Linked DNA regions of Homo sapiens. The protein of the gene in region 5 purifies or fractionates together with the protein of the main gene of each other region. This does not show direct contact. Each region holds a gene or a part of one and is shown on either strand. Other genes may lie near its edges. The genes, in order: MRPL3, NEDD1, TUBGCP4, RPRD1B, SCAF11, TUBGCP2 and TUBGCP3.

Region 1 (3,500 bases), on a different chromosome or scaffold from region 5:
AAAATGTTATATTTTGCTAACCATATGAGCCAATATAATCATATGCCAAATCTTTACTCTTTGACAGTCCACGGATTAGGCAAAATATCTTGGAAATTTTAAGTAAGAATCTTTACATTGAGGTGCTATGGTCGGTCCCTTCTGTTATTATATTTTCTCCAGTTCTTCTACCTAAGCAAGAGCCTGGCTATTTTTCATGAATGCCAGCCTGTGAACAACGATCTTTGAATTTTAAAAGTTAGTGTATTTCTTTGAGGTGGCTTTTTCAAATATTAAACTCTCTCTACATTAAAAACAAAAGTGTTCCTCCCTCTCTCACAGAAAGCAAAGAGTTATCTACAGGTTTTTCCACTAAAAAAAAAAAAAAACAAAATGAGATACAGTTTTGTATTTAAAAGTAAGTGTTTGAGACTTTGCATTTTAGATGTAGCTTTATTGAAAGGGCTGACATTAAACAAATTGCATATTTGGGTATTTTTACCTCCCTCCTCTCCCCAACCTCAAATTACCTGGTTTAATTGCAGCATTATCTGTTATATTAAAGATTTTAACTGTCTGTTTCGGCGGCAATCCAAGTTCCCGGTAAAATTCCAATATGGATGTAGCTTTCTAGAGGAAAAGCAGCACATATAAGTAATACATTGAATATTAAAAGTGGAATTAAATGCATGGAGATCTAAACCAAGTTATTAACACCCCAGAAAATAAATCAAAGCATACCTTATTCCTTAATGAACAAAGGGCACCCAATTCCCCTTATTTAAGGGAGGTGAGATTTATAGCTATATTTTATTACATCTCTGAATAATCTTACTATTTAGATTCCAATCATGTACATAGTGTTCAAATATAGCACACTGGGAAAGACCTCTGTTCTGCAGGAAAATAGAGAGTTGTGCTCATATTTAAATTCTGACTGGAGACTGTCTGAATTAAGAACCCAAACCCCGAAAAATCAACTCTGCCTATTCTGCACTTATTCTAAACTGGAAGAAAACACGGTATGTTACATTTAAATGTTATGACCACAAACTTCAGAATCTCAAATGTGGCCTGCTTATATCTAGAGATACCTACATATCTCTGGTTAAATCATTTTCACACTCTATAAGAAAACTAAGTCACATCCTTTTCTAAAATCTTCAGCACTGTTTCCTCTTCCTCCCTTTGAGTTGATCAAATAAAAGAATTAAGAGAACTTCTCCATGCTTTTACCAAATTGTCTATACCAGCACTAATATATTAACAGTACTATCCTCCCACCCCACTCTAGGTTACACATGAGATGCACATGGAGAGCTTCTGGAAAATGCCAACGGCAAGGGCCCTCTGCTTAGAGATTGTAATTTCACTGTCTAGTGTGGGGTCTAGGCATTGCTAATTTTCAAGCACCTCACATGATTTCTATGTCAAACTGGGGCTGGAAATCATGCTGACAGATGAGCTCTCCATACTTTTATTAAAAGCACTAATTCCCACCCCTTCTCACCTATTCAATGGTTTCCTCCTGAAATTGTCCCCACTCTCTTCTAAGAAATCTTCATTTTTTTCCCCTTTCTACTGGAACTTCCTATCACTATATATAACATGTCACAATAATTCACATATTAAAACAAACTTTTTCTTGACCACATATTCTTTAGCTAATTTTTCTGTTCCCCCTTACAGCAAAGCTCCTGGAAAGACTTGCCAAGTCTACTTTCTCTCCTCCCATTCTGTGAACCCAGTTTAATCAGCACTTTCAGCTCCTAGCACTCAATGCAAAGTGCTTGTCATTCACCAAGGATCTCCATACGGTCAACCACACTGGTTGATACTCATTTTACTGAATCTACCAGCAATGCTTAACACAGGTGACCACTCTCTCCATGGAAGACTTTCTCTTGGCTTCCAGTTACTACTCTCTCGGTTCTCATATATGTGAATGTCTGCACATTTCTAACTTCAATTCCAAATTCTACTTTGAACTATACATTCACATGTCCAACTGCCAAGTCATTATCTCCACTTCAATGTCATATAGAAACTTAAGCTTAACGTGTCTAAAACTGAACTCAACTCCCTTCACCAAGCCTGCCCTTCCCAGGCCTTCTTCCAAATCTCAATAAAAAAGGCAACTCCATAATGCTGCCGTATAGGTCAAAAATCTTATGGTCACCCTTGATTCTTTTCTTCTTCACATTCCATGTCCCATTCATCAGCAATTCCTCCAGACTATTTAAAAATATAGCCCACGCCAACCACTTACCACCCCATCCCAATGTCAACCTCATCCACTATCTTCTGCCTGGATTATTTCAATAGCCTCCAAACTGGTCTCCAAGCTTCCACCCTTCCGACTCTCTAGTCTGTTCTCAATTCACAGGCTGGCATTATCATTTTAAAACTCAAGCCATATCATGTATCTACAGTGGCTTCTACTTCTTACAGAATCAAGTCCTAAGTCCTTACCATGGTTTAAAATGTTCTACACAATCTGACCTCATCTTTTACTCTCCTCCTGACTCACCCTGCTTCAGAAAAAATGCACTCCCTTATTGGCCCAAGAACACATCAAACACTAGCCTCAAGACCTTTGCGCATCCTATTGCCTCTGTCTAGAATGCTTTTCTGCCATATTTTTGCATGACTGGCTCCCTTACTTATTCAGGTATCAATCAAAATATCAACTTACCTTGTCTAATTACTCAATCTGAAATAGCATCATTTTTTGTCACTTATCCCCTCAGCCTACTTTTATTTTATTAAAGCATATTATTTTATTAATACCAGTTTTTTAGGCATACCAGGAAGCTTCCGAGAAAAATCCTTTATATTTTTAGTATTACCCTTCAAAGCATTTATCTCCATGTGTCATGATACACATTTTTTACTGTTTCTATGTCAGCAGTACCCAACCTTTTCGGTACCAGCGACTGGTTTCATGGAAGACCATTTTTCCACAGACCAGTGGAGGCAGCAAGAGGGATGGTTTCAGAATGAAACTGTTCCACCTCAGATTATCAGGCATTAGAGTCTCATAAGGAGCATGCAACCTAGATCCCTCGCACACACAGCTCCTATAGGGTTTGCGCTCCTATAAGAATCTAACGCTGCCACTGATCTGACTGACAGGAGGTAGAGCTCGGGTGGTAACTAATGCTCACTCACCTGCCATTCACCTCCTGCTGTGCAGTTCCCATTCCTAACAGGCCACAGAGCAGTCTACAGCCCAGGGGATGGGGACCCCTGTTCTATGTAACAGCCTCCCCATTTCACCCCCAAACCTACCCAAATCTAAGCTTCCTGAAAGCAGAGACTTGCTTTAGTTGCTGCTATATCCCCAGCTCCTGGTAGAACCTGCTGTCTGCTCTCCACTCCTGCCTTCTGTCCTGCTATTGTAAATATCACTACAACCAGTGTCACTAAAAACAAAACCTATGGACATCTTATTTTCTTATAATTCCTGGGTCTTCCCCCCACCTTAATTCTTAAGACTCGATATAGATTGCTATAGGACT
Region 2 (3,500 bases), about 51 Mb from region 5:
TATATTTTGCTTGAAGTTTTCTGTGGATATATATTGCATTAGCTTAAACTCTAAGGCTTTTCCTGTAGCAGTACTTTACTCCTATTTTCCTTCGGTTTGTTTTTAATAGTCTTGGTTTATCTAGTTTATGGTGCAGCTTGTCACATTCATCTTTTATAAGAGGAAATGGTTCATAGATTCTTCAAGATTAATCCCTCTGTCATGTGGTATTACATTAGACAGCTGGCAGTTTATATATATAGATAAATGACTATTAGAAATAATGTTATAGAAAGTTTCTAAGATTTGTATTCCAGACAGTGAATTTTTCTAAATGTCACAGGAACACTCTTCTTTGCCAGTTTTTCAAGTTTGCACATGCCAAATCTTATTTAGAAATGTTTGATGTCTCTCAGTCCAAGTTGACTATTAATATTTTCTTCATTCTTTATTTTAGATCCAAAGATAGCATCTTCTGTCACTGCTGGAGTTGCCAGTTCACTCTCAGAAAAAATAGCCGACAGCATTGGAAATAACCGGCAAAATGCACCATTGACTTCCATTCAAATTCGTTTTATTCAGAACATGATACAGGAAACGTTGGATGACTTTAGGTAGTAATTGAGAAACTACTCCTTCTATCTAGACCTTACTTGTTTTTTTTTTAGATGTAAAACCAGAACTATAGATAATGTTGTTGGTTACTATTGTCTAGGTTCTGGTAATCCTAAAGCCATAGAAAACATAATGAGTTTTGTTGATCTTTTCGTACTGCATTTATTGATTATGAGCCAGGAAAAGGCACATTTACCTAGGGCAATTATTAGGTAACTCAGCAGGGCAGTCTAGCAGGTAGACTGCCATTGTGAACTTTTTTTATTATTAAAATGTGGACAAGTTCTGGTAAGCTTAAATTGGGTTCTTAACCTGCAGTATGTTCATAGATCTATTAGGTATGCTGTGTGCAATAATGTAGTAGAAAAAGATACTTTAAAGCACAATTCTGAATGTTTTCCAATAGAATGCATCAGAATGTAATACTTAATCTAAAAAAAATTCTTTCTCAGACTTATCCTTGTCTGTCTCATCCTTCGAATTGTGAACATTCTAAGAATGTGTTCTACAATGCTGCTTTCTTTTATCATCTCAATATTTTTGGAAGCTATCTTCAATTATTAAAATCATTGGTGCCTTTTTTCCTTTCTAACCTATAGTTAATGTTGTAGCTCAGATTTGGATTACCGTAAGCAAGAATGTTGGAGAAAATGTGCAGTTTTTGTTGGTGCATGCTTCCTTTTAATGTTTTAAAATACTTTTAAAATATATTTTTAAATGTCGAAAAATACTTTTTAAAGAAAAATTGTAATTTTGGCATTTACCCTACCTAGTATATGTACCAGATACTAAGGATACATCAAATGATCTGCCACAAAGGCCTTGTGATGTAGTTGGGCTAGGTGCAGTGTGTTCTGCCATGTGTGTTTCTCTTAATGTGAATTAATTCATTTGGGATCAGTAGAATAGAACACTGTTGACAATATGATGAGGAAATTTTGTTTGTTCGTGTAATAGCAGCCAAAATAAAGTACACCTGAACACAGCTGAATGCAGCAAACCCCGTCAGCATCCATCTCTTTTTATTCACTTCCTCTTGGCTTGGCTGTGTGGTCTGTTAGAAGTACTTATTTTGTGATTATTTCCCATCTTTGGGCATTTTGCTCTTGCCTCTGTAACTTGATAGCCGCAATCCTTCTATCCTCTTCCATTAAGTGACCATCACTTCTTCACAGTAAGGGTATTATTCAATAATTATCTATTAGATTTTTACTATGTCTTTTTAACTATGTTAGTATTTTTATTAGGATTTAATTGTTTTTGTTGTGCTCTGGTTACAAAGTTGCATAGGTTTTTGAGTGCTTTGCCCTAATCCTTTTTCCCTAAGTTCTGTTATTTTTAATACACAGTGTTAAAGAATATACGTTTTTTTCAGGAGTGCATAAATATTTATGGCATAATAGTAGAACTGTCTGGATACAGCTGACTATAATACAGTGTGAGCAAAGTGATGTTGAAATCACAGAAAGGGAGCAGTTCTTCTGTGGGGGCAGATTTAGAAAGGTACACTGAAGAGATTTTATTTTATACTGATGTGTGTGGGAACAGCTTGAGCAGAGACATGATCATACATTCTAGGAATGTTTGCAGAGAGAAGGCACCGTGGTAAGAGACCAGGCCTGAGGGACAGTTGTGAAGGTCTTAACACACAGGTAATGGAGAGCCATCAGAGTTTTTAAGCACAGGAGTAATGGGTGCTGTCTATTTATTACCCATTTATTCAACAAGCATTTGGGTGTCAGTTCACCACTGGCTTCAGATGATTTGAGGACAGTGGGCTCAGGGCCTTTCCTTCAGCAGACCCAGGGATCTGAGTGCTGGAGCAACTCTGAAATCGCTGTGCATTTCTGCCCTGCTGCCAGCTTTCGGGGTGGCTGGAGCTTGTTTTTCACTATCTAACCTGTTCCTGGCTTTCTGTGCCTCAGGAGAAGTGTGTCTGTCCCACTTTCAGCCCTGCAGAGCTGCTGCAGCACGTTTGGTGAAGACGTACAGTCAGTGCCTCTTGGTTTTGCTGCCCTGTGCTGCATGTCTGCACCTAGGAGTGGTGGGTAGGGACTTCTCTCAGCTCTTCTGCCCTTTGACCATAGGCAGCCTCTGCCTGGGACGCAGTGAAGACCCAGAGTGGCTCAGAGGATTTCCATAAATTCACTTGTTTTGCCATTTGCCTAGGTGTTCATCAGACTAGGTGTTCATCTACACCTATCATTGGCAGGACAGAGAGGGTATTGAGGACCTCTTTCTCAGCCATCCTCCCGTGGCTGCCATCTTCTCCATGAGAGCCTGGAGTGCCTTAGAGGGGTTACTCTCAGTTCTTCTCTGCTGCCCTAAGGTTTCACCAGGCTCTGTGCATCTGTATCTTAGGGAGTCTCCCTCAGCCCTCCTGTTACACTTGTCCCTACTTTTTTTACATGAGCGCTGAATGAAGGCTTGTGGGAAAAAGTTGGTGAGTAAATTGAGACTCTCCTTGTGGCTGGGACCCCTTGGAATTCTAAACTATCAAGCAGTGTTTACTTGGCTTTTAAAAATCTTATTAAAATTTCAGCTAGTTCTTTTTACTCTGTCAAGGGCATGAAGATGGGTCTCTTTTCTCCTAGTCATGGGTCTCTTTTCTCCTAAGAGGAACTCCTCATTTTCTGGATTTTAGTTCATTTAGATTTCTTTCCATTCTCAGCTCTCGGTTGAATTTAAAATAATATGATTTTATAGGTTATCAGGTTTGTTTTCGTTATTAGAGTTGAGAAATTATACTTTTGCACCAACCTAATACATCCTAAGTGGAAATCTGTGCATCTGTTTCTGTTGTCTATTAAGAAGATTTAAGTTTCTTTTGGCAAGCAGATCCCTTTGATCCTTTGGTTACTAGGTTCAGGTTTTCTTAGCACTAGTTTGTTTCCAGTTTGCCTTTA
Region 3 (3,500 bases), on a different chromosome or scaffold from region 5:
GACCCTGTCTCAAAAAAAAAAAAAAAAAGAAAAAAGAAAAAAAAGAAACTGCCTCTCTCTGCCATCCTCTTCCTATCTGCAGCGAACCTCCACATCAAATTGCCTTAGGATGCTGGATCTTGACTGTTCTGTGGTATTGCCATTTTATCTTAAGTTGAACTATTTAGAAACAAAAGCATTTCCCAAGTTGATTTTTTTTCCCTTACATTTGATTACATACCCTTCTAATTATTCTCTACTTTGCAGTTCCAGCTTCTTTTTCCCTCTGTGATGGTTGTAGTAGAACAAATTAAAAGTCAAAAGGTGAGAACTTTCCTTATTCCTTTTGCTTTGCTAAGCACTGAGGGAATATTACTAATTAATTTTGCTTTACATTATTTTTCGAAGACCCTAGTTTTTAGTAGTTTTTATTTATTCATTCATTTAACAATATCTGCTTGGTTATCATGTTAAGTGTCAGGAATGCAAAAGTATGACTCTGCCTTTAAACACCTCCTGGTCCAGAAGGTAGAGGAAATGTTCATAGATGTTCCCAAGAATGTTGTTGGGGTAAGAAAAAAAGTGCTGTGGATGTTTGCAGGTGAGAGGAACCTGCAGTAAGGTTTTAGAACTGTTGGGTGTGAAGCAGAAAGTTAATTCTTAGGAAGAAGGTAATAGGTTTATGGTTAGTGTGCTGGCAGTTTTCTGAGAATTTTGAGATCAGTGAGTGAAAGCCAGATGTTTAATAAATATGCCTATTCTTATCACAAGTTTTTATCAGGTGTATTGAGAAGTTAGGAGAATGTCTTTCTGGGCAGAGTTAATAAGTCTGAGGAATAAATGCTTTGAGATTTCATATTAGAAGAATCTGCTGTCCTATTGAATTGGTCCACAATTGGACCAAGTGGACAAATGGATTAAACATCTTTAGCTCAAGTCGTCATTTTTTTTAAGCTCTTTATTTGTGCCTTAGCTTATTAGGGGTGTTCATTTTCATTAATGTAACTAGTAAACCAGTTAATCTGCCACATTGCTGCATCATTTTTAACTGTGTAAGTGTAGAAACAGTGCTCTGCTATGTTCATGCTGTGCCAGCAAAGCCAGTGGTGGGTGCTCATTGGCCCTTCAAAGCTGATTGTCCTCATCAAATAACAACATCCAGCTTTTACTGTCACTGGCTGTGTACTAGGCACTGTGCTAAGTGCTTTAAATACATTATCACACACAATCCACTAAAGGGCTAAGTTGGTTAAGGGGTGTGCCCAGTGTCACACAGATAGTAGTAAATGGGTTTATATCCCAGCTCTATCTGGCTCCAAAGAGTGTGCTCTTAACCACTAGATTAAACTATCTCCCAAAATAAAAGGAGACATTCTAGGCAAATAGAGTTAATGAGGACAGCATAAGGGAGCCAGGCCTAGCTGCACGTCTCAGTTGGCCTTCAACTTCCGCTGGCTATAGGAAGGAGAGTGGAAAATAGGGGGATTGCAGATGGCTGAATCTTCCTCCCTGCCAGAATAGTGGTAGAGAAACTAGTGTACCAAGGCTCTTCAGAGTTTTTAAAATCAGGTGGTCAAAATTCTAGGTTTGGGTTGAGAATGGAGATTGATTGCAGACAGGCACAAAGGCGCTTTTTGGAGTAGTGGAAATGTTATAAAACTGGATTGTGGTAATGGTTGCCCAGTGTTTGAAATTTACTAAAAATTGTTTATTAGTATGCTTAAAATGGGTGAATTTCATTGTAAATTATACCTCAAAGTGGTAAAAATAAAAGTCTGGGGACCGGGCATGGTGGCTCACGCCTGTAATCCCAGCACTTCGGGAGGCCGAGGCGGGCGGACCACGAGGTCAGGAGATTGAGTCCATCCTGGCTAACACAGTGAAACCCTGTCTCTACTAAAAATACAAAAAAAATTAGCCAGGCGTGGTGGCGGGTGCCTGTGTCGCACTACTCGGGAGGCTGAGGCAGGAGAATGGTGTGAACCCAGGAGGCAGAGCTTGTAGTGAGCCAAGATTGCACCACTGCACTCCAGCGTGGGCGACAGAGCAAGACTCCGTCTCAAAAAAAAAAAAAAAAAAAAAAGTCTGAAGAACATAGAGGCAGAGGATTTTTGAAAAAGTATATACCTTAGAAGTAGACTGAATTGGGCCTTAACTTGAAATAAAAAGCTTTCCTTGGCTTTGGTGTTCCAACTCTAAATGATTCTGGTTGCTTTAAGTGCAGTGGTTCTCACACTTTACTGTGCATTAGAATCACCTGGAGGGCTTGTGGAAACACTGAGTGCTGGGTTCTAACCAAGAGTTTGCATGTCTGATGAGTCTCCAGGTCATGCTGCTGATGGGAGAGAGGTCCCTCTTTGAGAACCACTATGTGTAAATCTTAGGAGAAAGTTTATCCCCAGTCTCTCCTAGATTGTGCCCTCTTGGTTGAATATGGAATAAGAATGTGTCTTGCATGGACTCTTAGAATGGAATCCAGTTTGACAAGGCCGTATTTTCCACAGATTCATGGTTGTCAAATCCTGGAAACAGTCTACAAACACAGCTGTGGGGGGTTGCCTCCTGTTCGAAGTGCACTGGAAAAGTAAGTCATGGCTTAACTGGGAATTGGTGGTGGAGGTGGGTGGTCAAATTATTTGACTTCTCACATGTTTTATTTTCAGGTCATTTCAGGTTTCCCTCTTGGGAAGGTTATAACCAGGATAGAAAAAGCTCCATGAGCAGAGGAGCCCATGTAACCTTTATTATGGCTCAGGCCTTGCAAAAAGGGCTATAGAGTGTTGAGTGACAAAGCCAGGATTTAGGTGCCTGGATGACCTTGAGGCAATCTTTTTAAATGTTTAGATCCTGTTATCCTTGCAGGAATTCCATTACATGTGCCAGATGTTGCTTGCTGTGTCTAAACATGTGTATTTGAGTAGCTGGTATTTTCAAATTGAAGGTCCTTAAAAATGTTTATGCTTTATAATCCCATAATGCCACTCTTGGGAATTTTATCCTAACAAAACTATTTAATAGAAGAAAATAACTATATGCACAAACGTGTTCATTGCAATGTTGTCTACTATATCAGGAAATTAGAAAATTACCAACAGTAGAAAAAAATTTAAATGATGATATATTCACTTGATAGACTATAAAGCCACTAAAAGTGTAGGTACTATAACATGTAAACTATTTTATATAAATATGTACTGACAAATGATACAAAATTGTATTTATCTTGTGATTACAACAATATGAAAACATGTAGAGTATAATCAAAGACTGCCTGTTTGAGCTTTCCATTTATCCATTTTCCTTATTTTAAAAAAACTGTGACATTCATTGAAAAATTATAATAGATGATCCCTGAGGCCACTCACAACTCTGTTTTGTTCTTTTTTTCTTATTTTATTTTAATTTTTTGTAGAGAGAAGGCTTTGCTATGTTGCCCAGGCTGGTCTCGAACTCCTAGGCTCAACCGATATTCACATCTTGGCCTCCCAAAGTGTTGAGATTACAGGTGTGAGCCACCGCAC
Region 4 (3,500 bases), on a different chromosome or scaffold from region 5:
TGCAAGACCCAACTGAGAGAGCTTAAGAACCAGAGAATTTGGAGGCAGGTGAAGGCTGGAGTTGTATTTGGGGGAGTTTTGTTTGGAGTCAGTCTTTTTTTTTTTTTTTTTTTTGAGACAGGGTCTCACTCTCACCCAGGCTGGAGTGCAGTGGTGTGATCTTGGCTCACTGCAGTCTCCACCTCCTGGGCTCAAGCAATCTTCCCACCTCAGCCTCCTGAGTAGCTGGAACTATAGGCATGTGCCACCACGCTTGGCTAATTTTGCATTTTTTGTAGATGGGGTTTTGCCATGTTCGGGCACAAGTGATCCACCTGCCTCAGCCTCCCAAAGTGTTGGGATTACAGGCGTGAACCACCTTGTCTAGCCTGGAGTCACTGTTAATTTCTTCTGTTGGTCCATGGCAAGGTTTACAGATGACTTTGTTTGGAAAGCCTGAATCTGTTTTTAAAAGCAGGGATGGGGAGTGGGAAATCACAGTAGTTACTACTTGAGTCTATTTAGTGGACTATAAAAATTACTATAGCTTCAGTTTAACCTAATCAGAGCTTGCCATGAATTCGAGCCTGCTTGCCTCTCTTCAGGAAATTAATCTGGGTCATTTGACTGTCCCAGTTAAGCAGGTACATGTTTTAACAGTTTTAAAGGCAATTGCTGCCTGTATTTGGTTTTTCAGAGTATATACCCGGTTATCCTTGCCAATACATTTAAACCTCTTAGCCTACAGATCTTTTCTTTTTACCAGCCTCAGTGTTTTGTGTTTTTCATTTTTTTGTGGAGACAGGGTCTCTATTTCCCAGGCTGGTCTCGAACTCCTGGCCTCAAGCAGTCTGTCTGCCTCAGCCTCTGAAAGCATTGGGATTAAAGGCGTGAGCCACCATGCCCAGGCCAGCCTTGATGTTTATTAATCCTTTTCAGTGACAGTCTCACTCTCCCTCTTTCTTTCTCTAGTGATTCCTTCCTCTGACGCCTGCTCTTACAATAGGCGTCCCTGCGAGAAGAGTCACCCAGTGGCATCAAGAGCTCTGGGCAGGATCCGTCCACTTCCAGAGTGGCCTGAAGAGTGGAACACATTTCTTTTTAGTTAAATGAGTTTCTTCGGTAATGTCCAGAATATAATAGCCTAAGCATGATGGAATCCCCCGTACCCCACCCTATACCCCCTTCCAAACAGAAACAACTGTTGTTTGGTTTTTTGGGGTTTTTTTTGTTTTTTTGTTTATTTTTTTGACACGGAATTTCACTCTGTTGCCCAGGCTGGAGTGCAGTGACACAATCTCAGCTCACCACAACCTCTGCCCCGCCGGGTTCAAGCAATTCTCCTGCCTCAGCCCCCTGAGTAGCTGCGATTAACAGGCACCCACCACCCTGCCCAGCTAACTTTTGTATTTCTTAGTAGAGATGGAGTTGCACCATGTTGCCCAGGCTGGTCTTGAACTCCTGACCTCAGGTGATCTGCCTGCCTCGGCCTCCCAAAGTGCTGGGATTATAGGCATGAGCCACTGCGCCTGGCCACAACTGGGATTTTTAAGAAATTGCCTAGGAGAGAGTTAGTTGAACTTAAGGTGGTGTCTAATTAGAGCAAAGTGCCTTCCATTTTAACTTCAATGAACTTGCCACGTTGGTCTGATGATAACCCAAGAGTAAGGAGTCTTGGATTCTGATCCCAGCTCAGCTTCTAGAGACTTGGTGGTTTTCAAATTGTTCTTGAGGGACTCCTTCAACTGAAGGGCTCCCTAGTTGCCAAGAGTGGTTGGTTCTGAGTCGAGGTGGCTTTGATTTGTCAGCTTTGGTCAGAGAATTCAGGCAGGGGGCAGGAAGTCCGTGTTCTGTAGTTGTTTTGTTATTTTACCCTTTTTATACCTTCCATTCAGGAGAAGTTTATTAGATGAATCCGTGTCCAGAAATAGAGAATTAGTTGCCTTCATCCTTTATATTAATTTCCCTTGAAGTATAAACAGCCAAAGAAGAAAAGTACTTGTGGGAGAAAGGGGGTTCAGATCCTCAAATTTGAAAATAGTTTTCAACTTCAGGAACGTGAAAGGTGACTGTTAACCAAAGTCTGAGTCTCAGGAGCTACTTCATGTGGTATGCTTTTACCTGATGTTATGTTTTAGATATGGCTCATTCATTCGGCACATGTGCTGGGTGCCTACTGTTTGCTGGACACTGCGGAGCCTGGTGGATGCTGGGGGAAGCAGATGGGTCTGGTCCTGGCCTCCAGGAGCTTACTAGTTAAATGTGGGAGTCATTGCTAATCATTTACGTAAGTCATTGTTTAATTTTAGTTGTGGTAAGTTTACAAAGAAAAGAAATGGGCTGCTAGGAGAGCTCACTCTCTACCCTTTTCTCTTCCTTTGTAGACTGTGTGAGGAGCTCTCATTGCGGGTGGGAGACTGATTGCCTGCAGTAATGGGGAGAGGATATGCCTGGTTCCCTCCTCTCACTCCTTGCTTGGACTTTTGTCTTTACAACTTGAACTAAGTATTCTCCATTTGACCTTTTTCCTGCCTCATTATTCTTCCCAGACATTCTCTAGCTTCTACTTTCTGCCTCTTCAGGTGTGCATCAGGGATCTGGTATCAAGGAATTTAGAACTTGAAAAGAAGTGTTATGGTCCAGTTCCCTCACTTTCAGATATGGAAGAAGGGAACACATCCACGGTCACACAGCAGGTTAGAGGCAGAACCAGGACCAAGCCTAGGTCTCTGCATCTCAGCCCAGGGCTTCTTGTTACATTCCTGCAGGAAGGGCTTTCTAAGTCAGCAGGGGCCCAGCGTCAGGGACCTACTTACCCTTGCAGAGACACTGAGAGGACAAAAACTAAGCCCCAAGGGGGCCAACAGCCCCAGACTTCACATGGCCTAGGGTTGTTTTCTATATATCTTGGCAGATTTATCAAGAGTACCTTTTTCCGGGAGCTGAGGAAAGAAAAAAAATATGCCCCATTCCTATCATTAGGGGATTCATATTCTAGAGGAACATAGAAGTCTCACATGTATGGAGAGAGCATAGAGCAGCTTGCTAGGGGCTCAGGTACACACCCTGTGTGAGGGAGAGCTCTGGAGCAGGAGGAGATGCGGAGTCGTCTCCTGGATGCAGAGCAAGGATTTTCCTAGAGAGGTGGAGTCCAGATAGTCCAAGGAGCAGAGGAGTGGAGGCCAGGCTTTGCTAGGGCTAGGAGAAGAGAGAGACCCCCTCCAGGCTTGCGGGGAATCCTGAAAAAATGGTCCACACAGACAAAGAGGGTTAGGAGGTTGTGAGGCAGGGGCTGATTTTGTAAGACCTTGAACTCTGCTCTGAAGGACCAGATCATGGAGCTAGTGGGGTGCCGTGCCTCACTTTCTCAAGGGAGTGGTTTCATGAAAGCTGGGCTTTTGGGAGAGAAGTCTGGTGGCATTTTAGGAGCCCTAGGGGTCAGGAGGCCTAACCAGGGACTTACTGCAGTGACTCAGTTATGGAATGAGGAGGCCCTGGTCACAGGGAGTAGCAGTGGGGTA
Region 5 (3,500 bases):
CCTCTCATCCCAAATCTCTACTAAAATGACAATAAAGGAATGAAAGAAAAGTGTGTTTTTTGTTTGTTTGTTTGTTTGTTTTTTTGAGATGCAGTCTCGCTCTTGTCACCCAGGCTGGAGTACAGTGACACAATCTCAGCTTACTGCAACCTCCGCCTCCCAGGTTCAAGTGATTCTACTGCCTTAGCCTCCTGAGTAGCTGGGATTACAGGTGCCCGCCATCATGCCCGGCTAATTTTGGTATTTTTAGTAGAGCAGGGTTTCACCATGTTGGCCAGGCTGGTCTCGAACTCCTGACCTCAGGTGATCCGCCAACCTCGGCCTCCCAGAGTGCTGGGATTACAGTTGTGAGCCACTGTGCCTGGCCAGAAAGAAGAGTTTTAAGCCACAAAGTTTAAGCCACAAAGACAAGAAAGCTGGAGAGAGGGGGACAGCACATAAGTGTCCACAAAATAGAAAGTAAAACAGTATGAGGGGGATGGTAAATTGTCTTAGCAGAAAGCTGATACATAGACATTTCATGGGAAGAATGGAGTTAAGAATCTCAAGACAGTACACATACCATCAAACCTTAGCAAGTTGAGTTTGGAGGCCTCCATTATCTGTGAAGGCAGAGATATGGGGTGGTTTTGGAAAACAGAATTGGTTAAAAATCTTTAGATCCTGAAGATTCCTGGCTGTGGGTAGAGGAAGGGGAGTACCCAATGAAAGACTGGAGATTTACACTCTAAAATGAGTATTTGAACCAGATTTAAACTTTAGCATAAATGATGGTACAGGAAACAACAGAGAGGGAAATTAAGTCAAATGATGAGGCTTCTAGTCCTCTACCTAAGAGCATTTTTCAAAGCACTGGCAGTCTTGATTATTATAATTTTCCAAAGTAGGAAATAAGGGACATCTTTTGGAAAACTGACTTGCCCAAAAGAAAAGACTTAAAGATAATGTCATTTGAGAGTCTCCCAATGAAGTAACCAGATGTCTGCTTGATCACCCTACAGTGAAACACATTAGCTGAAAGGCTCTGACCACCCATCTACACCATTTTCAATCAATATTTTAGTGTCCAGCAAACAATCAAGGATCTCCAGATGTTTGAGGAAAATCAACATAATAGAGATCAAAACAAAGACAAAAGCAACCTGATGGGACAGACCCAATGCTGAAAAATAGGGAATAACTTTAAAAAACTTAATATCCTCAAAGCCTGAAAGAAGGGATATTTTATCAATGATACAAGAAAAATAATATTTAAGAAAAAGCTTTCAGAAGTTAAAAATATTACAGCAAAAATACAAAAATTCAACAGGAGTAGAAGATAAGTTCTTAAGTCTCAAAGTAGGACTAAAAAAGAGATGATAGGATATTCATTTAAGAGATTCAATATCGAATAATAAAATTTCAGGAAGGAAAAATGCAAAAATTTATTTTTAAAAAAGTAATACAAAGGAAATTTTTTCCGTAATAGTAGAGCACAGGTGTCCAGATATGAAGAAATAATATAATACTTAGTAAATGAAAAAAAAATCATACCAAATACTTCATAAAGTTCTAGAAGTCTGAGGATGACAAGAGAGAGAGTAAAAACAGACCACATAGAGGATTGGGGTTACAGAGTGTCATCAACAATAGTTGGAGTAGTGAAGCAATGCCTTGAAAACTCTAGGGAAAATAATTACTAACCTAGACAATTCTATAACCTATCAAACTATCCATCGTGCACTAACTCAGAATTCCCACCCTTTTCCACTTCTGCTGGAGGATGTATGTATATACTTCACTAAATGAGATAGTAAATGGAAGAACAATGTGAGATTCAGAAAATGAGTTCCAACTCAGGAAAAGATTAAACAGGACAAAGAGGATTATTGGGATAATGACAAAGGACAATCCCAAAATGACTATTGAACAGCAGCTTTGAGAGTTACCAGTTCATATTGGACCAGGACAAAGAAAGAGTTTTGCCAGGAGAGTGGGGAACAAACCTTATGGATGAGTTGTTGTGTTTGAGTGTATTAAACTCAGATTTATACTTTTGTTGTAGTTAGCTAAATTAATGATGGATAATAAGGAAGAAAAGGAAAAGAGAAAACAAAGACATTATTAACCCTAGGAAAATACCTGAATGAAGCTGGCTGGGCGTGGTGGCTCATGCCTGTGATCCCAGCACTTTGGGAGGCCGAAGTGGGTGGATCACCTGAGGTCAGGAGTTCAAGACCAGCCTCACCAATATGGTGAAACCCCATCTCTACTAAAAATACCAAAATTAGCCGGGCGTGGTGGTGTGCGCCTGTAGTCCCAGCTGCTCAGGAGGCCGAGACAGGAGAATTGCTTGAACCTGGGAGGCAGAGGTTGCAGTCAGCCGAGATTGTGGCACTGCACTCCAGCCTGGCCAACAAAGCGAGATTCTGTTTCAAAAAAAAAAAACAAAAAAAACCACACATAGAGTAGTATAAGGGTGTTATTTAGTAATAAGTAAATGTTAGAAGAAACAGCCAAAGGATTTGATGAGTGCTTTGGGGAAGCAGAAATCAAGAGTGGGTATTTCCATAATTTTTCTTTATAAGTTTGGAAGTACTGTTTGACATCTTAAAGTATGTACATGCATTACTTTGATAAAAATTAAATGAAAAGGCGTATCACTGCCCACCAAAAACAGACAAGTAGGGTGGATTTGTGAAACGATCTTCAGGAAACCACAATTTAGACAAATTCACCAGTATCGAATACTTTAGAGATTGCCATTGAAGCTGTTGAGTAATTACCTGAGAATTACCCAGAAATATGTGAAACAGCTTTTGAACTGGATTTTCACATGTAGCATTGCTCAGAGAAAACTAACAGTTCTTTCAGTAGAGAGCATTTTATCTAATGATGGCTTTCTGAGATAGGTTTCCAAATGAAAGAATGCTATGTAAACACTACATACTCGTTAAGTGTTGAGTGAATGCAACCTGAAACAAAACAACTCAGCATCCTTAGGGCATAAAAGACACTATGTAGGTATAGCACAGCAATTCTATGTCTAGCTGAAGGAACATGGTTATTTCTAAGAGTGTTATCTGTGTACCTACCACACATTTTTACTTCTTGCCTCTTAAGCCATTTTAAAAAATCAGCGTATCATCTTTTAGATACAGATTTTCAAAGGGGTAAGGCAGTAAGTTCCGGAACTCAGCCTGTTCGTCTTCCACTAACATTGAAATTACATTTGTTACAGTAGTTCTGAGAGGGACTTGTGCAAAACCAAACAGCTGTTGTATAATAACTAAAAAGGAAATTAGTATGCTATTAAGTAGAAAGTAGGCTATTACCAACTGAACTAACAGAAGTAAACCAAAATACATATGATCTTGCAGTGCAGGAAACAAGCCTCCTAGTTAGTGTGATTTATTTTGAACAATGTCAATAGGCCCTTTGTGAGGCAAGCAAGGGGGAAAATTAAAAGGCAGTTGTCATATGCACTGTGGACAAGTCATAAGCAATGCAGCCACCAACGT
Region 6 (3,500 bases), on a different chromosome or scaffold from region 5:
CTGTACGGGAGAGGGCAGCATGCACCGTCCGTGTCCCCCATGTCCCTCCGTGTCCCCCATGTCCCTCCGTGTCCCTCCGTGTCCCCGTGTCCCGGGGAGCCCTACCTGTACGGGAGAGGGCAGCACGCACCCTCCGTGTCCCCCATGTCCCTCTGTGTCCCTCCGTGTCCCTCCGTGTCCCCCATGTCCCTCCGTGTCCCCCGTGTCCCTCCGTGTCCCTCCGTGTCCCTCCGTGTCCCCCATGTCCCCCATGTCCCCGTGTCCCGGGGAGCCCTACCTGTACGGGAGAGGGCAGCATGCACACTCCGTGTCCCCCGTGTCCCTCCGTGTCCCCCATGTCCCCGTGTCCCGGGGAGCCCTACCTGTACGGGAGAGGGCAGCATGCACACTCCGTGTCCCCCGTGTCCCTCCGTGTCCCCCATGTCCCCGTGTCCCGGGGAGCCCTACCTGTACGGGAGAGGGCAGCATGCACACTCCGTGTCCCCCGTGTCCCTCCGTGTCCCCCGTGTCCCCGTGTCCCGGGGAGCCCTACCTGTACGGGAGAGGGCAGCATGCACACTCCGTGTCCCCCATGTCCCTCCGTGTCCCCGTGTCCCTCCGTGTCCCCGTGTCCCGGGGAGCCCTACCTGTATGGGTCGTGGATGATGCCCCTGTAGATCCACTTCTCCAGAACCTCGAAGTAGGGAGCACTGGCCGCCTTGGTTAGGTACAGGCATAGCTCCTGCGCCTGGCTGTCCCCTGTGTAGCTGAAGCTCCTGTCGTGGAGCAGGCTCAGCGTGGACCCCCCAAGACATTCGCCTTTGTCCACCGAGGTGGCTGTGGGGAGAAAGGAGGGCTCACTGCTGAGAAGGAAGCGCACGCCCAGCCTCTGCCAACAACACTGCTGGGGCCCCTCATGCTTCTCCAACCTTCTTCCTGGGACGGTGCTGCTTCTTTGGGATACGTATTAACTGTAAGGTTGTAGTTGCTGATTTCAGCTGACCAGTAAGAGCTTCCAGGGCTTTCCTCTTGCAAGTTAATAGCACATGGAGCAACATGAGCTTTGGCCACACGCCCCTGCCCTGGGCAGCTGCTCCACGGCCCCTGCAGAGTCTCTCCTCACACTGGGTGCCATGTTCAACACCTGCCACCCACCACTGCCCCATGCCCCCCGGGCGGGCACGCACCGAGGGAGGCCAGGATGTCCATGGTGCGCATGGCTGGCTGGATGTAGAACCAGAGCTTCTGCAGCGAAAGGAGGCCCTGCCTGTGCAGCTGCTCCAGCTGTGACACCAGAATCAGGTGCTCCTTCACCAGGGTGCGCATGGCGGCCGCCAGGGCGTGGTTCACCTGCCCGTACTCGAAGGAAGACTTCTCTTCAATGAACCTGGAAGAAAAGCTGTCAGACTTCCTCAAAAAGGCAAGCTGCAGGCACATACAATGTCCGATATTCTGAGTCTCATCCCAAACAGGAAGCAAATGACTCACTTGAACCCCACATCCCAGAGGGGAACTTTTGCCCCAGGAGGAGATGAGTCAGGACCCTGGATGGTGACTCACAGACCCTCCAAAACTGAGTTGGGCACGGAGTTGTCACCAAGGCGGGCGCTCTCTTTAGAAGCGATGCAGACGTCCCCATGGTCATCAGGATGGGACCTAACCCCTCCCCCACAACAGCGCAGGCTCCCAGGGACCGCGCCCGGTGCCCACCTGGTCACAGCGGAGTAGCTGGCGGCCACTGGGAGGATCCTGTGCACCAGCTCCCTGATGGACAGGTCCAGGTTGGGGTCCACGAGGAAGGTCCGGCTCTGCCTCCCAGCCAGGGGCTGAGCACTGACGTACCTCCCGTCCACGCCCACCAGCACGTACAGCAGGTCCTCCACCACGGCCGACTCCTGCGAGGCCAGGGGCAACGTGCCTGCGGGCACAGACAGCGCTGTGGCTCTGCAGCCCCCACTCCCATGCCCCCACAGCCACGTGCCCTCATCTGCGGGTCAGTCTCACTCTTGCTCATCTTTGTTTATGGGTATAAAAGGTCAGCCACTGCACTTGGCTTTGACTGACCCCACTGGGGAGCCACAGGCTGAGTTCCAACCGCCGCAGGACGGGGCCGGCCTGGGAGGCGTGGTGGCTGGTGTCAAGATCTCACCACACTCGGCTCCGCAATGCTCAGATACATGGCTGACATTTGAAAAGGTGAAGTTAGGAGTTGAAAAGGCGACTCCAGCAGAAGCTGCACTTTCAACATTGGTAAGTACAACTTGGTAAGTCTGAGTTACTCTGGGACAAAAAACCTTGTCTTTAAAAAGCTATCACTTAAACGTTAAGAAACTCTTGATAATTTCTATCCAGAGAGGATGAGACGGCTGCAGGACACACAGCTAAGCTTCCTCACGAGGACGGCCACGGGCCGCCACCCACCAAACCCCTCAGGTCCCAGGACCAAGTTCTCAGTCCACAGCCTCAGGCGGGCCATGCCTGGGGGGCCGGGAGGAGCACCAGACGAAAGCAGGATGTTGAAACTGTCCCCACGAGGGCCTGACAGGGCCCCGTGCCAGCCAGACCATACCCAAACCAGGCCCTGGCAGCTCAGGAAGGCTCCGTACAACAGGCTTTCGGTTTACAAAATCACTCTGTCAGCCTCACACATCTGCTGGGAAGTGTCCTGTGACTGCAGGCCTCAAGACTACAATCCGTCACCAACGCAAGCCCTTCAGCGAAAGCCTCAATCCTGATGCAGATCCACACTGTCCTTGTTTTTTTTTTTTCCTTTTTTTATTTTTGAGACAAATCTCACTCTGTCACCCAGTCTGGAGGGCAGTGGTGCAATCTCAGCTCACTGCAGCCTTGAGCACCCAGGCTCAAGCGATCCTGTATCCTTAGTCTCCCTCGGAGCTGGGACCACTGGCACGTGCCACCATTCCTGGCTAATTTTTAAATTTTTTGTAAAGGTGGGGTCTTGCCGTGTTGCCCAGGCTGGCAGATCTACACTTTTCAACTTCAAATTCCATTTCTTTCTATTACTCCAGTGGCCTTCTCAGGATGACCAATAAAACCGAGACCCCAATGTCTACCATCCCTAAAGGAGTGGGTGTGGCTTGGCGTTTTGGGAACAGCGAGTGCATCTTCCAGGAACTGCCTCTGACTCTGCATCACTTACTTTCCACCATGTTGGCCTCATTCATCCACAGCCACGAAGCCTCGGCCAATGCCCTTGTGGGGAGAAGCCTCACGGTGGGGTGGAGGTGCCGTGGGGTGGGGGTTAGTGTGGATCCAGCCGCCTGGCTGTGGAGGGACCTCAAGGGTTGCTTTAGGCCGGGTATGGTGGCTCACACCTGTAATCCCATCACTTTAGGAGGCCAAGGTGGACAGATCGCTTGACTCCAGGAGTTCAAGACCAGCCTGGGCAACACGGCGAATCCCCGTCTCTACTGAAAATACAGAAATTAGCTGCGTGTGATGGTGCACACCTGCAGTCCCAGCTACTCGGGAGGCTGAGGTGGGAGAATCACCTGAGCTTG
Region 7 (3,500 bases), on a different chromosome or scaffold from region 5:
GGTGAGGCAGGATTTGGGAACACTGCCGAAGCTGGAGATGGGAATCCTGGCTATGGCTGTCTGGACAGCCCTGGGTGGGCACTGCCGATGGCACAGTGCATGGTTGGGAGGGAGCTGCTGCTGCTTCTCCTCCTGTTGGAGCCTGACAGGGGGCAGCTAATAGGAGCCGTGGCATCTCCACTGTCCAGCCCTTCTTTGTGGCTAAGCAGCATGTGGTCTTGTCCATAGGTTGATTATTGGGCAGTAATTACTGCCAATGAAATCTCCAAAAATTATTGAATCACAGAACAACTGTGTACTATAAGCTCAGCGTAGCACAGGACTTATGGCAGCGTAGCTGGTGGGTAGGAGGGTGGCTGGTGAGTAGGAGCGTGACTGATGGAGAAGAGCATGGCTGGTGGGGAGGAGTGTGGTGCTGTAGTGTGGCTGGTGGGCAGGAACGTGGCCGGTGGGTAAGAATGTGGCTGGTGAGTAGGCACTTGGTGTGGCAGTGTGGCTAGTGGGTAAGAACATGGCTGGTGATTAGGCATGTGGTGTGGCAGTGTGGCTGGTGGGGAGGAGCATGGCTGGTGGGTAAGAACGTGGCTGGGAGTAGGAGCATGGCCGGTGGTTGGGAATGTGGCTAGTGAGGAGGAGTGTGGGTGGTGGGTAAGAATGTGTGGCTGGTGAGTAGGCGAGTAGTGTGGCAGTGTGGCTGGTGAGTAGGAGCATGGCTGGTGGGGAGGAGTGTGCTGTGGCAGCGTGGCTGCTGAGTAGGAGCATGGCTGATGGGGAAGAGCGTGGCTGGTGGGGAGGAGCGTGGCTGGTGGGGAGGAGTGTGCTGTGGCAGTGTGGCTGCTGAGTAGGAGCATGGCTGATGGGGAAGAGCGTGGCTGGTGGGGAGGAGCGTGGCTGGTGGGGAGGAGTGTGCTGTGGCAGCGTGGCTGCTGAGTAGGCATCACACTTTGAGCTTTGAAGCGAGGCAGCCCAGGGTTCTGGTTTGGGCTTCTCCTGTAATGGTCACGTCATCTTGCCCAGGTTATCTTCTGTTGGCCACAAGTTTCTTCCTGCATAGAGTGGGGTAGTGATTACCTCTAGGATTGTGAAGGTGGGGAGAGAATGCGTATAAAGATGCTGCTTCCCAGTCTAGTACTGTTTTCTGTTCTGTTTGCCAGTCTAGTGAATTGCTCGATGACCAGCCACCACTCTCCCTCATTGCAAGGGCAGATAGGAGTGAGCTGGCTCTTTCTCGAGGCAGGTAGGACTGGTGGGCCGTCCCCTCAGGAGCCAGCTGTAATTTTAGAGTCCCTGTCCCTTTTCCCGAAGGGAGTGTTTTATCATGTCTGGGTTTATATCATCATCTTATGCAAGTGTCACTGATAGGTCCCAGTCAACTTGATAGACATGAAGCAAAACACACACACAAAATCAATACAGGATAACTAAACCATTATGTAGATATTTTATTCCAGGAGATGGATTGATCATCACTATAGTAGTATCATATTATGTTTTATAGCAGGGGTCCCCAGTTCCTGGACTGTGGACCGGTACTGGTTCATGGCCTGTTAGGAACTGGGCCGCACGGCAGGAGGTGAGTGGAGGGCGAGCAGGCATGACCGCCTGAGCTCTGCCTCCTGTCAGATCAGTGATGGCATTAGTTTCATAGGAGTGTGATCCCTGTTGTGAACCGTGCATTCAAGGGATCTAGGTTGCATGCTTCGTATGAGAATCTAATGTCTGATTATCTGAGGTGGGAACAGTTTTATCCCAAAACCACTCTGCCCCCCCATCCCACCCTGGTCCGTGGAAAAAATGTCTTCCACAAAACCAGTCCCTGGTGCCAAAAAGGTCGGGGACTGCTGTTTATAGTACTGGACTTTAGAGGCTCTTCTTTTATCTTCTTTCTCCTTATCGATTATCATAGCAGCCTTCTAAAATGATCAGGGCAAGCATTAATTGTCCCCATTTTGCAGATGTGAGAATTGAACCTCAGCAAGTTTGATTGATTTGACCAAGTTGCCCTGACTAGTAGATGGCAGGTATGGACTAGGGTGTGACGTGTCACTCTGTTCCAAAGCTGTCTCTGTTCTTCCATTTCCTGCTGTTTGGAGTCATTGCTTGGTGCCATCCAGTTGCTGAAGGAGTGATGGTTTATTTATCTTATTTGAAGAGCCAGCGTGTGCTCTCAGTGGGGTGACCGTGTGCCCTAATTTATGCCTTGCATAATTTATGTCCTGTGTCAGTATTACCAGTGCCCACAATTAGCCTTGGAGGTGTCCTGGCTCTAGACATACCAAATGGAGCAAAATCATATATGAATGAAGATACTGTTTTGTAAGTGTGAAACTTACATGTGCATTTAATGAACCAAGGTGGAAACAGCCTCTGCTAACCACAGGCCTTTTCCCTCTGAGTGTGTGTGGCGCTGCCGCGCTCTGCCTGCACTTCCACTCTTTTGGTTGTAGACTTCTCAGAAGCTGACTCACATACACCTGTATATAAATACTTAGATTCTACACGTTGGATAATGATTTGATTATTTCAGCAGGTTTTGTTTTTGTTTTTTTTTTGAGACGGAGTCGTCTCGCTCTGTCACCCAGGCTGGAGTGCAGTGGCGCGATCTCGGCTCACTGCAAGCTCCGCCTCCCATGTTCACGCCATTCTCCTTCCTCAGCCTCCCGAGTAGCCGGAACCACAGGCACCCACCACCACGCCCGGCTAATTTTTTTGTATTTTTAATAGAGACGGGGTTTCACTGTGTTAGCCAGGATGGTCTTAATCTCCTGACCTCATGATCTGCCCGCCTTGGCCTCCCAAAGTGATGAGATTACAGGCGTGAGCCACCGCACCTGGCCGCATATTTCAGCAGGTTTTTCAAAGCTTTGATGTGTTTATGTGTCTGCTCTCCTGCCCTGGGGCTGGGATGGAGTTTTGGTAAAGAGTGATGCTGTGCCTGAGCAGATTCCATGTCGTTTTCTCTGTAAATATTACCTAAGAAAACTGACCTATGGTTTAGTAAGCACCTTTGTGCCCACACTGTGCCAGGCGCTTGCCCTACGTTACCGCATTTATTCTTCCTCCCTTTGTAGATGAGCCTAGAGGTTCATACCGTCAGGGGCTGACACGTGGCGGTACCTCCAGCGGGAGCCCTGGATTTTTACCCCCTGGTCTGTCTCATTCCAGACTCTAGGACGTTTCTTCTTGCACACCTCACTTTTGACGTGTCCTTTTGTGTCTACAAAATTAGTATGTTTTATGTTCATTTTCATACTTGAAAATGTTCACATTTGTCTTAGTCCACAAACCATAAATGCAGTAAAATACACCTATAGGTGACTGCTGATATATTTTAAAAATATACAGAAAGGTATGCAACCTACATATTTACTTAAAGAAAACAAGTTTAAAAAACAATTAAAAAAAATTTTTTGATGGAGTTTTGCTGGATAAAACTGAATGAGAAAGAACACAGGTTTATCCCTTGCAGGCTGCTTCTGCTGTGGGCTCCTTGAACAGCA

What was found.
Region 1: the proteins of SCAF11 (region 5) and MRPL3 purify together in Homo sapiens (affinity purification with mass spectrometry; one large-scale study listed by BioGRID and IntAct). This does not show direct contact.
Region 2: the proteins of SCAF11 (region 5) and NEDD1 purify together in Homo sapiens (affinity purification with mass spectrometry; one large-scale study listed by BioGRID and IntAct). This does not show direct contact.
Region 3: the proteins of SCAF11 (region 5) and TUBGCP4 purify together in Homo sapiens (affinity purification with mass spectrometry; one large-scale study listed by BioGRID and IntAct). This does not show direct contact.
Region 4: the proteins of SCAF11 (region 5) and RPRD1B purify together in Homo sapiens (co-immunoprecipitation; one large-scale study listed by IntAct). This does not show direct contact.
Region 6: the proteins of SCAF11 (region 5) and TUBGCP2 purify together in Homo sapiens (affinity purification with mass spectrometry; one large-scale study listed by BioGRID and IntAct). This does not show direct contact.
Region 7: the proteins of SCAF11 (region 5) and TUBGCP3 purify together in Homo sapiens (affinity purification with mass spectrometry; one large-scale study listed by BioGRID and IntAct). This does not show direct contact.

Annotation. Positions count from the first base shown.
Region 1 is NC_000003.12:131,489,472-131,492,971, forward strand, and holds part of MRPL3 (large ribosomal subunit protein uL3m), read right to left. Parts: intron 610-3,500; coding exon 510-609; intron 1-509.
Region 2 is NC_000012.12:96,945,257-96,948,756, forward strand, and holds part of NEDD1 (protein NEDD1), read left to right. Parts: intron 1-436; coding exon 437-593; intron 594-3,500. UniProt on the Homo sapiens protein: Required for mitosis progression. Promotes the nucleation of microtubules from the spindle.
Region 3 is NC_000015.10:43,377,601-43,381,100, forward strand, and holds part of TUBGCP4 (gamma-tubulin complex component 4), read left to right. Parts: intron 1-246; coding exon 247-303; intron 304-2,483; coding exon 2,484-2,563; intron 2,564-3,500. UniProt on the Homo sapiens protein: Component of the gamma-tubulin ring complex (gTuRC) which mediates microtubule nucleation.
Region 4 is NC_000020.11:38,085,746-38,089,245, forward strand, and holds part of RPRD1B (regulation of nuclear pre-mRNA domain-containing protein 1B), read left to right. Parts: intron 1-951; exon of another isoform or gene 952-1,101; intron 1,102-2,117; exon of another isoform or gene 2,118-2,266; intron 2,267-2,363; exon of another isoform or gene 2,364-2,675; intron 2,676-3,500. UniProt on the Homo sapiens protein: Interacts with phosphorylated C-terminal heptapeptide repeat domain (CTD) of the largest RNA polymerase II subunit POLR2A, and participates in dephosphorylation of the CTD by RPAP2. Transcriptional regulator which enhances expression of CCND1.
Region 5 is NC_000012.12:45,935,075-45,938,574, reverse strand, and holds part of SCAF11 (protein SCAF11), read left to right. Parts: intron 1-3,500. UniProt on the Homo sapiens protein: Plays a role in pre-mRNA alternative splicing by regulating spliceosome assembly.
Region 6 is NC_000010.11:133,291,873-133,295,372, forward strand, and holds part of TUBGCP2 (gamma-tubulin complex component 2), read right to left. Parts: intron 1,898-3,500; coding exon 1,690-1,897; intron 1,367-1,689; coding exon 1,167-1,366; intron 817-1,166; coding exon 627-816; intron 176-626; exon of another isoform or gene 1-175. UniProt on the Homo sapiens protein: Component of the gamma-tubulin ring complex (gTuRC) which mediates microtubule nucleation.
Region 7 is NC_000013.11:112,550,154-112,553,653, reverse strand, and holds part of TUBGCP3 (gamma-tubulin complex component 3), read left to right. Parts: intron 1-3,500. UniProt on the Homo sapiens protein: Component of the gamma-tubulin ring complex (gTuRC) which mediates microtubule nucleation.